4 separate regions of the Homo sapiens genome follow, and regions 2, 3 and 4 are each linked to region 1. The links come from fine-mapping of genetic effects on gene expression. A gene starts in region 1. Each other region holds a variant in brackets. All regions are shown on one strand. Distances are from middle to middle.

Region 1 (4,303 bases):
AGGACTAGATCCAGACAAGGATTTTTCAGTCCCAAACACTCTTCCTGAAAATGCAAGAGGAGTAGTCTTTAGTCAAACAGAATCTCCACAACTGAAAAATTTATACCGGACTAGACAGTGGTAGTGGTTGCACAATATTGTTAAAGTACTACACGTCACTGCTATAAACACTTTTAAATGGGTGAAATGGTAAATTTTATGTTATGCATATTTTAACATAACAATGATAATAATTTTAACTAAGTACGTTGCCTCCTTATTTCCTACAGGGTCAAGTTCAAACTCCCTGGCATAGCTTACACCTTGTAGTCCCCATACCTGTAACCTCATGTCTGCTATCTTCCCCCAGCCCCTTCATCTGATCTATGTTCAGATCAGCTCACATTGCTCTCTATTCTCTGGACAAGCCATGTTCTTTCACTTTTCTATGCTCAAACACAATTTTGCTTTTAGTAATGATAGCAAACACTTATTTAAAGTGCTTACTGCATGCATATGTAGACATAAATCTACGGCTTAATACATGCAGGGCTTTTGAGTCATTTAATCCTCACCAATTCTATGAAGTAATAGAATTGTAATAGTAATAATAGATACTATTATTAAGCCCATTTTATACTTGAGCAAATTGAGCTAATTGCCTTAGGCAAGGTCACACAACTAAGAAGCAGCCATAATAGGGTTTGGATCTAGGTGTTCTAGCTCCTGAATCCATGCTGTTCGTCACTACACTGTACTGCCTGTGGATGACTTACTTGTCCCTGTAGTTTCATCTGAAGAATTCCTCCTCCTTTTCCTTTGAGGCCTGCCTCAAATATCACTTCCCCTGTGAAGACTGCCTGGTGTTCTCCAGGAGAGAGTGTGACTCCCTTCTCTAGGAATGGTAGCACCCCAAACACACACATTTTGCAGCATATTTCACCTTGCATGGTAATGGCCTGCTTGTGAGTTTTATTCCGTACCAGAGGGTGAGGGCTCTGAAGATAGCGCCAGGTCTTATTTACCTCGATACCCCACAACACTCATTACATGTCTGATGAATGAATGCATAGGGGGATGGCTGGGTGCATTTCTCTCAACTTTTCAATTTCTTGAAATAAATAACAAAATCTTACCTTCCCTCAGAAGTCCTGGCATGGTTCCTTTCATCTTGCCACAGCCACTGATAATCACTTTCATTTTCTGTGTAACTCACCAGGCAAGAAGTCCATGCAGATTTACTTTTAGTAGTTCACATGACAAATAAATACTGCGTTTGATTTCCAAACATTAAACCATAGTATATTATAGATAGATATAGAGTTATCATTCAAAGTATGATATTTCAATCTCAAAAGGCTTCCCCTGAAGAATATTACAAACTCTTCCTCTCTTTAAGATCTGCTGGGTAGGAAAGATGGGAGAAAATGAATTAATGTTTACACAGAAAGGAGGATAATGGGGGCAAAAATAATAGATGAACGTATGGGTGGATGAGAGAATGGATAAAATGATAGGTGGATATGTTGATCTTGGACAGATGGGAAATGAGTGGATATATCAATAAACAGATATGTGGGTGGATGGGTGGAGAAGAGGATGGTGGATGGTTGTGGTTTTATGAAGAGATGTGAAAAAGGAAGTGTGGAATGATGGATGAGAAGTTGTATGGGAAGATGAATAGAAGAATAGGTGGTTGAATAAATTAAAAGGTGTGTGGTTGGATGAATGAATGAGTGGGATGATAGATGGACCTAAGTGGTTAGTGGATGGACAGGAGGATGGATGGATGTGAGAGCCCCAGAAGGACATAAGGAAAGATGGGTGGATAGATGGATGGGCGGATGGAAGGATATTTAGGAGGATGAATGAGCATGTGTGTGGAGAGAGGTGCCCATTCACACTGGCTTGAACACATGGGTTAGCTGAGCCAAATGCCAGCCCTATGACAGGCCATCAGTAGCTTTCCCTGAGCTGTTCTGCCAAGAAGCTAAAATTCATTCAAGCCATGTGGACTTGTTATTGAGGGGAAAAAGAATGAGCTCTCCCTCTTTCCACTTGGAAGATTCACCAACTCCCCACCCCTCACTCCCCACTGTGGGCACGGAGGCACTGCGCCACCCAGGGCAAGACCTCGCCCTCTCTCCAGCTCCTCTCCCAGGATATCCAACATCCTGTGAAACCCAGAGATCTTGCTCCAGCCGGATTCAGAGAAATTTAGCGGGAAAGGAGAGGCCAAAGGCTGAACCCAATGGTGCAAGGTTTTACGGTTCGGTCATCCTCTGTCCTGACGCCGCGGGGCCAGCGGGAGAAGAAAGCCAGTGCGTCTCTGGGCGCAGGGGCCAGTGGGGCTCGGAGGCACAGGCACCCCGCGACACTCCAGGTTCCCCGACCCACGTCCCTGGCAGCCCCGATTATTTACAGCCTCAGCAGAGCACGGGGCGGGGGCAGAGGGGCCCGCCCGGGAGGGCTGCTACTTCTTAAAACCTCTGCGGGCTGCTTAGTCACAGCCCCCCTTGCTTGGGTGTGTCCTTCGCTCGCTCCCTCCCTCCGTCTTAGGTCACTGTTTTCAACCTCGAATAAAAACTGCAGCCAACTTCCGAGGCAGCCTCATTGCCCAGCGGACCCCAGCCTCTGCCAGGTTCGGTCCGCCATCCTCGTCCCGTCCTCCGCCGGCCCCTGCCCCGCGCCCAGGGATCCTCCAGCTCCTTTCGCCCGCGCCCTCCGTTCGCTCCGGACACCATGGACAAGTTTTGGTGGCACGCAGCCTGGGGACTCTGCCTCGTGCCGCTGAGCCTGGCGCAGATCGGTGAGTGCCCGCCGCAGCCTGGGCAGCAAGATGGGTGCGGGGTGCTCAGCGCGGACCCGGCGGCAGCCCCTCCGGCTGAGTCGGCCCTGGGGGACTGGAGTCAAGTGAGCTGTCTGCGAAGTGCATTGGGCTCCGGAAAGCAGGGCTGGGATTTGCGCTAAACCGTTGGAGAATGTGTCTGTGGAAGCACCATTTGGTTGAAAGAAAAAGAGAAAGAGAAGAAAGTTTGTTGGGCAGGCTGCCGGCGCGCAGTTTTGGGCGAGGTCGCTAGAGCTGCAGCACATGGCAGAAAGTAACCGTTCTCCCGGATGCGCACAGTCGTTGTCTGGACTAACAGGCTCCTGTGCCCAAGGGCTCGCCAAGCCCCACCGGGCTGTGTCTAGGCAGGGCAGAGCTGGGCGGGGCAGAGACTGGGGCTGGAACAGGGCGAGTGGCTGTTATCAAGGTGGTCACAGAAGGGATCACAATTCCAAGTGTGAGACTAGCTGGCAATGGGTTTTCCAGAAAGGGGTCCTGGGTTCTCCCAGCTCCCCACTGAGCCTTGTTCCAAAGCTTACAGTCCGCAGTGTCACTGCCACCTTAGCGCTGTGGAAGCTTGAACCAGCTCTGCGGTGAGGTCTTGGGTCTCCATGAGATTCCAGCCTGGGATAGGGAGCATGAATATGAGAGGCAACCACTGGACCAGCTGCTTGGTCCTCACCACCTCCTGCTTCTGCCAATCAGTGTGGGGAAATCTCAACAGTAAGGTGGCTTATATTCCCTGCCTGGCAGCCTCAGAGCAGAGAGAAGAGCCTTGATACCAGGGCAACATCAGGGACCCTGGAGCTAGGGCTCCAATATCTCATCCAAACAGGGTCAGTGCTTTGTGGTGGCTATGGAGGGGAGGGGCTGCGTGTAAGGTATATTCTAGCACGGCTCAACTCCAAGCATTCTCTTTCTTTGTCTATGTATGTACAGATAATTACATGGCCGATTTGCTTATCGCTGGCCAAAATTAATCTTTCTTTTAAGAAGTGCCAGCTGGGTCATTAAGACAGCTCAGCCTGCATGCAGTAAATTCTACTCAGCAAATATTTATTAACCCAGTTCCACGGGAGTACTGAGAAATTGAAACACACAGTCTCACCCAGGTAGTTTAGATTGAGTACCCAGTATAAAGTATCTTGAATTACTTTCTGCTTTCTCTATCTTCCTACTTTCTGCAGTAGGAAGAAAGTGACCCTAGGTGGAGGCTAGGCAGGATGAGTTCTCTGTGCATATGCATCTCCCTTTCTGTGTGAGTGAGAGGTCTTTGCTAGGTGGGGATTTGGGGATCTAGGATTTATACTACTGAAGCTGAAATAATAATAATAATGATAGCAACAACACAGCCTGTCATGGTGGCCCATGCCTGTAATCCTAGGACTTTGGGAGGCTGAGGCAGCAAATTACCCAAGGTCAGGAGTTTGAGACCAGCCTTGGCCAACATGGTGAAACCCCATCTTTACAAAAAATACAAAAATTAGCAGGGTGTGG
Region 2 (4,303 bases), 68 kb before region 1:
TTCTGCTTCAAAGAAGATGTAGTAGATACATGTTTTCCTATTTTTTCCCTCTAAGTACAATGGAAAACTTTGGACATTATATATAAAACAAAGGTAGAAAGGCTTTAAAGGGAAGAGAAGAATGTAGATTGGCTGGGGACTTAGGGACCATGGAACAAAACAATGGTGAGTTCTCTGGGTTCCTGGGCTTTCTTTTTGCCGCAGCTATTCCAGACTTGGGAATAAGGAAGATGATAACCTAGAAATGCCAATGGGCACAGACAAAAAAAGCCACAACAAAAGACTGTTCTCTTTAGCCAAGGAACAGGAAATGAGTAGCCCAGCAAGACAGAGGACCTTTAGACCAGAACCACTCTACTCCAGTCAGACACAACAGGGAAAAACAAAACAACAACAACAAGAAAAACACTGTAGCCCCATCTCCAGTCATACCAGGAAAGGCCTAATGGGGACTCTAGATTTCTACCCTAATTAGGCCGTAATAAGGGCCGCAACACTATTTCTTACCTCCACCATTCCTCCAGGGTGGTGTCAGAAAATGCTGAATAGAAAATCAGGACTTTATTCCTGCCTGGCGAGAAGAAGTATCCACACCACAGTATCAGTGGAGACTATGTGGGAGCCTGGAGTTTTACCTCCACCCAGCAGTGAAGAGGTGCCTCTCCCTCCCTCTTTCCCCAAATAGTGTCATGTCAGAGGATGCCTAGTGCAGGGTCAGGACCTTTGTCACAGCAGTAGTGTGACTCTCCCCATGGCATCAGTGGAGGCCATGGGAGATGCGGTAATAAGGCATTCATACTCCTTCCAGCCAGGGAGGTATGAGTGGAGCCCTACTGGGGAGCTAAAACACTGACCCCCATCCAGCAGTAATGAGGAGCTTCCTTGAGTGTCCATAGAGGTTAAATGTGGAACATGAACGTCTGTCCCCACATGGCAGTAATGAGGGGTGATCCTCTTTCCCTTGCCAGAGCAATGTCAGAGGAAGCCAGTGAAAACAGAGGTTTAAATAAAATCCGGAGTCTTATAACACCACAAATGTTCAGGTTTTAATTTAAAAATCACTCGTCATACCAGGATCTCAAATGGAACAAGACAAAAACAGACAATAGATTCCCTTATCAAGATGATAGACATGTTAGAATTATCTACAATTATTTTACAGTAGCCCTCATAAAAATGCTTCAAGGGGCAATTAGTAACATACTTGGAAAAAATGTAAAACTAGAATGTCTCAGGAAAGTAATAGAAAGTCTCAGCAAAGAAATAGAAGGAATAAGTTAATAAATGGAAATTCTAGAACTGAAAAATACAATAATTGATGTAAAAACTCAGTGGATGAGCTAAACAGCAGAATAAAGAGGAAAGAGGAAATAATCAGTGAACTAGAAGAGGGAATAATAAAAATTACCCAACCTGATAGAATTTAAAAAAAAGAAACAAATTCACAATTATAGTTGAATACTGCAATATTCCTTTCTTAACAATTGATAGACTACTTAGACAAAAAATTGGCAAGGATATAGAAGAACTCAACAGAACTCAACATCATCAACCATTAGGATGGAACTGACATTTATAGTGCCCTCTACCAAACATCAGCAGAATACAAATTCTTTTCAAGTGTTTACAGAATATATCGCCAGATAAGCCATATCCTAGTGTATAAAAACAAAGCAAACAAACAAAAAAACCTCCAAAATTTAGCAAATTAAAAAGAGTTGAAATCATACTGAGTGTGTTCTCTAGCCCAAATGGAATGAAATTAAAAACAATAGAAAGTTACAGAAAATTCTCCAAACACTTGAAAACTAAATAACAAGCTTTTAAATAAACTTGGTTATTTAGAAAGAGGATCAAAAAGGACGGCTCAAGAGAATTTTTAAAAAACTGTTCACCTACCTGAATGAAAATGAAAATAAAAAGTATCAAAATTTGTGGGACACAGCCAAAGCAGTACTGAGAGGGAAATTTATAGCACTAAAAGCATACATTAGAAAAGAGAAATGTCCTCAAATCAGTCATCTAAACTCACATCTCAATAAAAAAGAACAAAAATAAATACAATGCAAGCAGAAAGAAGGAAATAATAAAGAGCATAAATTAATGAAGAGGAAAACAGAAAACAATAGAGAAAATCACTGAAACAGTTTGTTCTTTGAAAAGATCAATAAAATAGACAAACTTCTAGTAGAACTGATAAAGAAAAAAATAGAGAAGACACAAATGACTGGTATCAGGGATGAAACAAGAGAAATCTTTATAAAACCTGCAGACTTAAAAAGACAATAAGGGGCCAGGTACGGTGGCTCACGCCTGTAATCCCAGCGCTTTGGGAGGCCGAGGCAGGCAGATCACAAGGTCAGGAGATCAAGATCATCCTGGCTAACATGATGAAACCCCATCTCTACTAAAAATACAAAAAATGAGCTGGGTGTGGTGGCAGGCGCCTGTAGTCCCAGCTACTCGGGAGGCTGAGGCAGGAGAATGGCGTGAACCCGGGAGGCAGAGCTTGCAGTGAGCTAAGATCACGCCACTGCATTCCTGCCTGGGCAACAGTGCAAGACTCCATCTCAAAATAAATAAATAAATAAGACAATAAGGAAATACTATGAACAAATCTACA[T/C]ATATAAATTGAACAACTTCAATGAAATGGACCAAATTCTCAAAAAACACAAACTACCACAACTATCCAATATGAAATGGATAATTTAATAGCACTATAAATATTAAGGAAATTGAATTAGTAATTAAAATAAAAACTGTTCCTCTCAAAGAAATTTTCACACATTGATGATGATTTCACTGAAGAACCCTAACAAACATTTGAAAAAGAATAACAATAGCTTCCATAAAATAGAAAAAGTGAGGTGGGAGGACACATTCTAATTCATTTTCTGAAGCTAGTGTTACCCTGATCCAAAACAAGAGAAAGACAGCTCAAACAAAGAAGCTGCAGACCAATATCTCTCATATATATAAATACAAAAACCCTTACCAAAATATTGGCAAATAGAATTCACAGTATGTAAAAAGAATTATAGATTAGACCACATGGGATTTATTCCACAGATGCAAAGCTGTTTCAGTATTTGAAAATCTATGTAGTCTATCATATTAACAGGTTAAAAAGGAAAAATCACGTGATCATATTAAAATCATGCAGAAAAAGTATTTGATAAAATTTAATACCCATTCATGATGCTGTCAGAAAAATACAAAGAGAGGGAAACTTCTTCAACTTGATAAAGAGTAGCTACAAAATACCTGCAGCTTCCATTGTACTTAATAGTGAAAGACTGAATGCTTTACCCCTAAGATTGGGAAAGAGGCAAGGATGTCCACCCTTATTCAACATCATCTTTAGTCAACATTGTACTGTAAGTTCTAGTGAGTGCATTAAGGCAAAAACAAACAAACAAAAAAACCCCAAAAAACAGAAATAGAAGGCCTATGTATTGGAAAGGAAGAAGTAAAATCGTCCTTATGACATGAATGTATATGTAGAAAATGCGAGGGAATCTACAAAAACTTCCTAGAACTGAAAGATGAGTTCAACAAGGTTACAGGATACAGGATAAACATAGAAAGGCCATTTTGGCTGGGCATGGTGGCTCACACATGTAATCCCAGCACTCTGGGAGGCCAAGGTGGGCAGAAGGCTTTGAGCTCAGGAGTTTGAGACCAGCCTGGGCAATATAGTGAAATCCCATCTCTACAAAAATAGCCAGGTGTGGCTGCAAGCGTCTGTGGTCCCAGCTACTCTGGAGACTGAGTGGGAGGATCACTTGAGCCTAGGAGGTAGAGGTTGCAGAGGTTTCAGTGAGCTGAAATTGTGCCACTGCGACTCCAGCCTGGGTGAGATCGAGACCTTGTCTCAAAAAAAAAAAAGAAGGTAAGAAAAGAAAAAGAAAAGACAATTTTATCTCTACAAACTAGCAATGGGCATGTGGATATAAAATGTAACTATACAATATCATTTACAATTGCTAAAAAGAAGTAAAGTACTTAGGTATAAATCCAACAAAATGTTTGCAAGAAGTATATGCTGAGAACTACAAAAGCCTGGTGAAAGAAATTAAAGAAGACTTAAATAAATGGACAGACATATATTGTGTTCATGCATCAGAAAACTTAACATGGTAAAGATGTCTGTTATCCTCAAATTGACATACAGGTTTAACCCAATTCCTATCAAAGACCCTGCAAGATATATTATAAATACAGACAAGATTATTTTACAATTTATATGAAAAGGCAACATAACTAATTAAAGTAATTTTTAAAAAGAAAATAAGGTGGCAGC
Region 3 (4,303 bases), 120 kb before region 1:
GTGGAATCCAGTTAGATGGTCCTAATGCTTTCGTTCCAGCTATGACATGTGTTTTGATTCACAGTATGCTTGGATGGACTGTGTGGATGCTTCATTCCTATGGAAGACATAATTCAGAACAGAAAACTTGTAACAGCAGCATCTTGCCTGCAAAATTATTTAAGAAAAAAAAAAAAAAGACTTTCTGGTTAATACCAAAATCTTTAACTGTCCTTTAGATAGGTACTGTTTCAAGTAATTAACCCACTGTGATTCTCAACAATGGGTCCATAATAGCCTTACCTGAACATTAACTCCTCCTATTTGCCCCCATTACTCCCAGAGATTCCAGTATTTTTTTAGTGGGGCTTTGGTGGTGGTGTGCGTGTATGTATGTATGTGTATATGTTATGTATACACATGCACATATGTGCCTTGGGTGTATGTAACTATGTATGTATATACACACATATTTTTAAACATAAATTTTTATAATATTCATTTTAAACAAAAGTATACAGATATATAATCTTAAGCACCACAGGTGAGTTTGAAGTCCAGCCATTGTTGGGAACCATGGAATCAAACACAATTTTTTAAAAGCACTTTGCTTTCATGACAAATAATACACTTAAGGATAGGAAGAGAAGGAGATGCTCACAGATACAAAGACGTTAAAAAAAAAATGCCCATGTTCATGAAGGGGCTTGCTTACAACCAATTGCTCTCTTATTTCACGGGCTCTTTTGATTTTACATAAAGTTCAGTGCTATAAAACTCTGTAAAATTTCATTATGTTTTTAAAGTCAGAGGCAGGGAAAAAGTCACCTCCAGGTGTTTAGAAAACTAAAAAAGACTGCCATTTCACTGGGCTAAGTTTGAAGCCCCGCAGATGCAAGTGCCTTGTATTCATGAGTCCACAAATAAGGAGGTGTTAATGATCAAGGTAGTGGTTGAGTGGATCCTGGTAAATACAGCTTCAATTGGAGATGGACTCAAGCAGTTCAGCATATACAGCAGACACACAAGCTGATGATAACCACTTACTATGTGCTAGGTACTGTTCTGATGCTTTGCTTACATCACCTCATGACATCTCGACAACAAGGTAGGTATTATTATCCCTGCTTTATCAATGAGAATTTCAGTCACAGACCCTTGACCACATTTGCTCAGCTAGTAGGCAGGGACTGGAACTCAAATCCGTGTGACTTCAAAGCCACGCAGCAACCACCACACCAGTCATATGCTCTGCCCTGTGGATTGGGCCATATTGAAACAATAAAGACCATCGAGCTGATGGATTTCGAACCACTTCAGAGAAATATGTAAAAGGCTTACATGCAAAAATATGTTCAGAAGACAAGCCAAAAGGCCAAGTATTCTTGTAAATGTGGCAGTGATGACTGAAGACTTTATTAAAAATATATTAAGCATGTAGATAGAGAGTGAACTGCTCATAAATCTAGGTGGTTTTGTTTACTTCTATTTTTCTGTATGTTTGAGATATTTCATTGCTGATTATTTTTGGGCAACGGGACATGGAAGAAAGTTGATAAGCTCTTCTGAATTATGACTTATTCAGGTAGTTTTGCATAAACCAGAGGGCAGATAATTGCTGATATGACCTCAACAAAGAGATAAGGTGGAGAAAGGAATGTTTGCTAATTATCTACAAAGGAAAGAGAAAGGTGAGAAATAATAAGTTACCTGATTCTCTGTGTTCTGTGCTTACTTGTTCCTCCAAAGCATTCTCCCCAGCATGTCTCTTCCAGCTTAATAACTGAAAACACTTAGTCAACAACAATACACTCTAGTGGAAAAGAGATCCTGTTAGTTTTCTAGACGATGCCTGTTGTGGGTATATTGTTTCCAAAATTATATTAGTGCTCATGAGCTGGAATCGCTGCACTTTACACACTCAAAATTATGAGACCATTTGTCCCCGGTGGTAGCTCAGTTTTTGGAGTGAACCTCAAAAGCAATCCTTGGCTAACAGAAGATTCTTCCAGATTCTAGCAATGTTTGTTCAAAGTGGGGCATAGCTGGCCAGGTGTAGTGGCTCACACCTGTAATCTCAGCACTTTGGGAGGCTGAAGCAGGCAGATCACCTGAGGTTAAGAGTTCAAGACCAGCCTGGCCAACATGGTGAAACCCTGTCTCTAGTAAAAATACAAAAAATTAGCTAGGCGTGGTGGCACACGCCTGTAATCACAGCTACTTGGGAGGCTGAGGCATGAGAATTGCTTGAACCCAGGAGGTGGAGGTTGCAGTGGGCCGAGATTGCACCACTTCACTCCAGCCTGGGTGACGGAGTGAGACTCCATCTCAAAACAAACAAAAAACAAAAAGCAAAAAAAAAAAAAAAGATGACAACAAAGTAGGGCATATCTTATTATCTTATTTACACTTACTTCCAGAGTTCACTGTAACACAGAAGGTTGTCCTTTGATTTTGACTTTTGATTCATGGAAATGTATACATGAAATTGAATTTCCTAATCTTGTGTTTCAGAACAGCTGACTTGTCTCAGGCAAGTGTGTG[C/T]GCATTATATAAGGAAGCAGTGGTCATTTATCTCATCATATATTGGACTGTGAGGCATTAATATATATGTCTTGTTCATGGGAGCCGTTGATTTTAGGAAAGCTACTTATGTAAATAAGCAGTAACAGAAGGCGCTCGGCCAAGCTTTAATGAGACATCTCAGCTCTCCCTCTGCTAAGTCAAAAAATGTACTTTGAGACTTTAATCTCCAGTAAAAGTGACAATGGAAAGAGCAATTTAAGAAACACTCCTTGCACATGTTCACAATGTTAATTTTTAAGAAATCAAAGCCATATATACAATATAATTCTACTTTTTTTAAAGTACATAAATGCAATTAATTAAATAAGACTGCAAGAATATACAAACCAGAATGCTCACAGTTGTTAACTTTCTCTTGAAGTTAACATTTCAGATGATCTTAATTTAATTTAATTTTTTTACCTTTCTGTGTTTTCAAACTTCTTTGTATTCAGCCTATATAGCTTGTTTAACAGGAGAAAAATGTAATAAATGATTAAGGGTCAGGAAAAAAGAAAAAGAAATGAATATGCACCTTCATGCTACAAACAGACCATTTCTAGTACTGGAAATGTCTGCAGCTTTATTCCTCATTTTGCAAATGAAAACCACAATACTGCCTATAATCATAGCCACTGAAGTGGTCAGGAAGAATCTTGTCAGTTCTCCAGCTTTTGCAGTGGAGTGAGTTGGATAAATTTCCTCCTCAAAGGACGTTTGGATGAGTGGAAGCTTCATTAGGAAAGAGGAGAAGCCCATAGGCAAGTCTAGAAAACCTACGTCCCATCACTGTACTGGAAGACTCATGAAGTCCGGACAAAGTGTGATACAGCCTGGTGTATGATGCTCAGTAGTGTGAATGAGATGTGTGATACAACCTGGTGTATGATGCTGAGTAGTGTGTAATGAGAGCCATGACCCAGCTCTTCCAGGACACCGTCGAGCAGACATTTGTGGGATGGTCGAAAGTCACTCAAAGAAGAGATGTCAGTAGTCACCTGGTTCAGCAGGCTCACTGGCTCCTCATCAGAATTGCCTGGGGAGTCTTTTCAAATGCACATTTCTGGTTCCCACTCTCAGAATGCTGGGTTCAGGGTTCAAAGCTCTGCAAGTGATTCACATGGACTGGTTTGTTTGTGATCTACCTTGGGAAAACTCCTTTTACAAATGAACTGAATCAACGGAATAGTTTCTTTTTCCTATTTACATTATGCCTGGTATGCTTTGCGAGTGTTGGGCCTTTGCAAGTGTCTCTTTTCAGAAATGCCATGTTTATTCCATTGCCTTTGCCCAAAACTCTGCTGGGACTCCCCCACTTTTCTTAACAGTGTTCAGAAATGGAATTCTTTTAACTGTCTTCAAAAACAGAGTGACAGCATGCTTTTGAGAGGAGAAGGAATGCTAAAATAATTTGTTATATATTTTTGAAATATTTGTCAAATGAGAAAGATTTTGTTATATTAGTGTAATGACAAAAACTATCGTATTAAAATATTTTCAAAAATAATTTCTAATAAGCCAAATTATATATCCTTGTACATTAATGTAATAAAATTTAAACGCCTATATATTGGCTATATGACCATTAAAATAATATAATCAGAAATTATTCTTGTTTTGTAATCACTTTCTTAGTTATTTTTTTCTTTAAAAAATTTTACTACTTATAAAATGTAATATGTGTAATTGTGATACGTAAGTAACAAAATAAACCTACAGAAATGTTATTTTTAGTGTCTGAATTTTATACAATACAAAA
Region 4 (4,303 bases), 90 kb after region 1:
GGGGTTTCACCATGTTGGCCAGCTGGTCTCGAACTCCTGACCTCAAGTGATCCTTCTGCCTCAGCCTCCCAAGTGTTGGGATTACAGGCATGAGCCATTGTGCCTGGTCTCTTTTTCTTTTTTGAAACAGGGTCTCACTCTGTCACCCAGGCTGGAATGCAGTGGCACAAACACAGCTCACTGCAGCCTCGACTTCCTGGGCTCAAGTAATTCTCCCACCTCAGCCCCCAAAGTAACTAAGACTACAGGCACATGCCACCACAGCCGGCTTATCTTTGTATTTTGAATACAGACTGGGTTTTACCATGTTGCCCAGGCTGGTCACAATCTCCTGGGCTCAAGTGATCCACCCGCCTTGGCCTCCCAAAGTGCTGGGATTACAGGAGTGAACCACTGCACCTGGCCTCCAAGGCCCTTTTCTTGACCATGCATCCTGCTGGACTCCATCTGTATTCCTGGTCCCCATGAATCTGTTTCACAGTTCAAGCATCCTTCCCCCAACCCCTCATCAAGCCTTATGCTAGAGGAGACAGGATCTACCTCCTGTTGAGGAGGTATAATTTTTATTTCCCCAAACAAGAGCTTAAAGTTTATGGCCTTGGCAGTCCTACAGGGAATGGTCCATGATCATGAATAATAGAGGCTTTGTCACTATTACTCCAAATATCCAGAGGCAAAGTGAACAATTCTGACTTCATACTGTTTCCAAATCTCCAGAGGGCTGGCAGCATTGACAGAGCCAGGCAGAGCCCAGGCTTTGGTCATAAAGGCCTGGATTTGAATATTGGCTCTGTCATTCTTACTTTCTGTGTGACCTCGAGCAAGTTATTAAACCTCTTTTGGCCTCAGTTTCCATTGCTGTATTATGGGAACAATAGCTGCTTTGAAAGAGTGTTGTAAGAATTACAGAAAATTACATGTAAAATGTCTGGTATTCAGGAGGTAATCTGCTTCCCTGAATCCCCATCTTGCTTGTAGTTGTGAAGCTATGCAACTTTCCTTCCTCTAAGCATAGTCTGACTCGTATATGTGTAGTAGTGATATGTTACAGGAAAGAGGAAGCATTGCATTAGGCTGGGTGGGGTGAAGCAATGGACAGTAACCAGGGAAAAGATCAAGGTCGTACTCTTCCATAGCAACTTTCTTTTGCGTTTGGGTCTTAAGTAATGTTTGAGAAACCTTAAATTAACGAGAATAATTTGTCTTATGTTATTAAACTTCCTATATCAGGGTTGTATGAGTTAGCCAATGTTAGGAAAACATCACTATGGCCTTATACCTCTAGAAAAATGTTGTTTTATTCTTCTCGATACATTCAGTAATAATGCTGACAAGGCCGACAAAGTGTTGACTGGGAGAGGAAGTTATGGGACTTTCTGGAATATACAAATCAGAATGATTTACAATCATCATGTTGATGGTTTATCTAAATCTGCAGAAACTGCTAAAATGCTTAAAAGAGGCAAACATTTCCATTGTGAAGTAAGATAGAAAGAGAATCAGAACTTGAGAGTCAGACAGACCAGGGTTTGAATCCTCTTTCTTACTTGCTGAGTTACTTGGGGGAAGTTACTGAATTTTCTGATCCCCAAGGTTTCTTCACTTGGAATATAGAGAATATAATAATAACACCGGCTTCCTGGAGTCTTAGTTGCTGGTTTGCAAACTTGACTGTGCAGAGAAGCCCCTGAGGGGTTGCAAATTTGACTGTGCAGAGAAGCCACAGATCCTGGGCTCCAACTCTAGAGTTTTCTGATTCAGCAGGTTTGGGGTGGGGCTGAGAATTTGTATTTCTAACAGGTTCCAAGATGATGCTTTTGCTGCTGGTCCAGGGACCTCACTTTGAGGAGTGCTGGTTGTTATGAGTCTGGTTGTTAAGTGCTGGTTGTT[A/T]GTTGTTAAAGTAGAGAAAACCCCTAGCACAGTGCTTGGCACACACTAAAGCCATCATAAACCATAGTGATCATCAATGATGGTGCTCAGTAAGGATGATGATCTGATGCCTGAGTCACTGCAATCTTTCTGATATGGTACATTTTTTAAATTATTAGGTGTGGGCAGAAGAAAAAGCTAGTGATCAACAGTGGCAATGGAGCTGTGGAGGACAGAAAGCCAAGTGGACTCAACGGAGAGGCCAGCAAGTCTCAGGAAATGGTGCATTTGGTGAACAAGGAGTCGTCAGAAACTCCAGACCAGTTTATGACAGCTGATGAGACAAGGAACCTGCAGAATGTGGACATGAAGATTGGGGTGTAACACCTACACCATTATCTTGGAAAGAAACAACCGTTGGAAACATAACCATTACAGGGAGCTGGGACACTTAACAGATGCAATGTGCTACTGATTGTTTCATTGCGAATCTTTTTTAGCATAAAATTTTCTACTCTTTTTGTTTTTTGTGTTTTGTTCTTTAAAGTCAGGTCCAATTTGTAAAAACAGCATTGCTTTCTGAAATTAGGGCCCAATTAATAATCAGCAAGAATTTGATCGTTCCAGTTCCCACTTGGAGGCCTTTCATCCCTCGGGTGTGCTATGGATGGCTTCTAACAAAAACTACACATATGTATTCCTGATCGCCAACCTTTCCCCCACCAGCTAAGGACATTTCCCAGGGTTAATAGGGCCTGGTCCCTGGGAGGAAATTTGAATGGGTCCATTTTGCCCTTCCATAGCCTAATCCCTGGGCATTGCTTTCCACTGAGGTTGGGGGTTGGGGTGTACTAGTTACACATCTTCAACAGACCCCCTCTAGAAATTTTTCAGATGCTTCTGGGAGACACCCAAAGGGTGAAGCTATTTATCTGTAGTAAACTATTTATCTGTGTTTTTGAAATATTAAACCCTGGATCAGTCCTTTGATCAGTATAATTTTTTAAAGTTACTTTGTCAGAGGCACAAAAGGGTTTAAACTGATTCATAATAAATATCTGTACTTCTTCGATCTTCACCTTTTGTGCTGTGATTCTTCAGTTTCTAAACCAGCACTGTCTGGGTCCCTACAATGTATCAGGAAGAGCTGAGAATGGTAAGGAGACTCTTCTAAGTCTTCATCTCAGAGACCCTGAGTTCCCACTCAGACCCACTCAGCCAAATCTCATGGAAGACCAAGGAGGGCAGCACTGTTTTTGTTTTTTGTTTTTTGTTTTTTTTTTTTGACACTGTCCAAAGGTTTTCCATCCTGTCCTGGAATCAGAGTTGGAAGCTGAGGAGCTTCAGCCTCTTTTATGGTTTAATGGCCACCTGTTCTCTCCTGTGAAAGGCTTTGCAAAGTCACATTAAGTTTGCATGACCTGTTATCCCTGGGGCCCTATTTCATAGAGGCTGGCCCTATTAGTGATTTCCAAAAACAATATGGAAGTGCCTTTTGATGTCTTACAATAAGAGAAGAAGCCAATGGAAATGAAAGAGATTGGCAAAGGGGAAGGATGATGCCATGTAGATCCTGTTTGACATTTTTATGGCTGTATTTGTAAACTTAAACACACCAGTGTCTGTTCTTGATGCAGTTGCTATTTAGGATGAGTTAAGTGCCTGGGGAGTCCCTCAAAAGGTTAAAGGGATTCCCATCATTGGAATCTTATCACCAGATAGGCAAGTTTATGACCAAACAAGAGAGTACTGGCTTTATCCTCTAACCTCATATTTTCTCCCACTTGGCAAGTCCTTTGTGGCATTTATTCATCAGTCAGGGTGTCCGATTGGTCCTAGAACTTCCAAAGGCTGCTTGTCATAGAAGCCATTGCATCTATAAAGCAACGGCTCCTGTTAAATGGTATCTCCTTTCTGAGGCTCCTACTAAAAGTCATTTGTTACCTAAACTTATGTGCTTAACAGGCAATGCTTCTCAGACCACAAAGCAGAAAGAAGAAGAAAAGCTCCTGACTAAATCAGGGCTGGGCTTAGACAGAGTTGATCTGTAGAATATCTTTAAAGGAGAGATGTCAACTTTCTGCACTATTCCCAGCCTCTGCTCCTCCCTGTCTACCCTCTCCCCTCCCTCTCTCCCTCCACTTCACCCCACAATCTTGAAAAACTTCCTTTCTCTTCTGTGAACATCATTGGCCAGATCCATTTTCAGTGGTCTGGATTTCTTTTTATTTTCTTTTCAACTTGAAAGAAACTGGACATTAGGCCACTATGTGTTGTTACTGCCACTAGTGTTCAAGTGCCTCTTGTTTTCCCAGAGATTTCCTGGGTCTGCCAGAGGCCCAGACAGGCTCACTCAAGCTCTTTAACTGAAAAGCAACAAGCCACTCCAGGACAAGGTTCAAAATGGTTACAACAGCCTCTACCTGTCGCCCCA

Which allele goes with the higher level. Positions count from the first base shown, and alleles are read on the strand shown. Sizes are in standard deviations (SD) of each study's normalised expression. Not every link is listed here.
As copies of C replace T in region 2, the expression in tibial artery of the gene that starts at base 2,589 in region 1 goes up (small effect, 0.27 SD a copy in GTEx).

The links. PIP is the estimated chance that this variant, and not a neighbour inherited with it, causes the effect.
Region 2: its variant is the best candidate, but not a certain one, in a credible set for the expression of CD44 in tibial artery (GTEx, PIP 0.58).
Region 3: its variant is the best candidate, but not a certain one, in a credible set for the expression of CD44 in whole blood (INTERVAL, PIP 0.71).
Region 4: its variant is the best candidate, but not a certain one, in a credible set for the expression of CD44 in whole blood (TOPMed, PIP 0.63).

What each region holds. Positions count from the first base shown.
Region 1 is chr11:35,136,583-35,140,885 of GRCh38, forward strand. CD44 (CD44 molecule (IN blood group)) reads left to right here and starts at 2,589. Exons shown (of 18, transcript NM_000610.4): 1 at 2,589-2,788. The coding sequence starts at 2,722. CD44-DT (CD44 divergent transcript) reads right to left here and starts at 1,450. Exons shown (of 3, transcript NR_120528.1): 1 at 1,116-1,450; 2 at 1-44. RefSeq lists enhancers at 1,754-2,318, 3,486-3,986 and a silencer at 2,229-2,298.
Region 2 is chr11:35,068,781-35,073,083 of GRCh38, forward strand. No RefSeq gene overlaps it. Among named protein-coding and RNA genes, the nearest start is that of CD44-DT, 67 kb to the right of the region's middle. The variant T/C (reference allele first, on the strand shown) is at 2,624.
Region 3 is chr11:35,014,522-35,018,824 of GRCh38, forward strand. LOC105376626 (a long non-coding RNA gene) reads right to left here. Exons shown (of 4, transcript XR_001748180.2): 4 at 1-3,649. Among named protein-coding and RNA genes, the nearest start is that of MIR1343, 75 kb to the left of the region's middle. The variant C/T (reference allele first, on the strand shown) is at 2,524.
Region 4 is chr11:35,227,081-35,231,383 of GRCh38, forward strand. It overlaps CD44 (CD44 molecule (IN blood group)), which reads left to right. Exons shown (of 18, transcript NM_000610.4): 18 at 2,049-4,303. The coding sequence ends at 2,253. Among named protein-coding and RNA genes, the nearest start is that of CD44-AS1, 14 kb to the left of the region's middle. The variant A/T (reference allele first, on the strand shown) is at 1,891.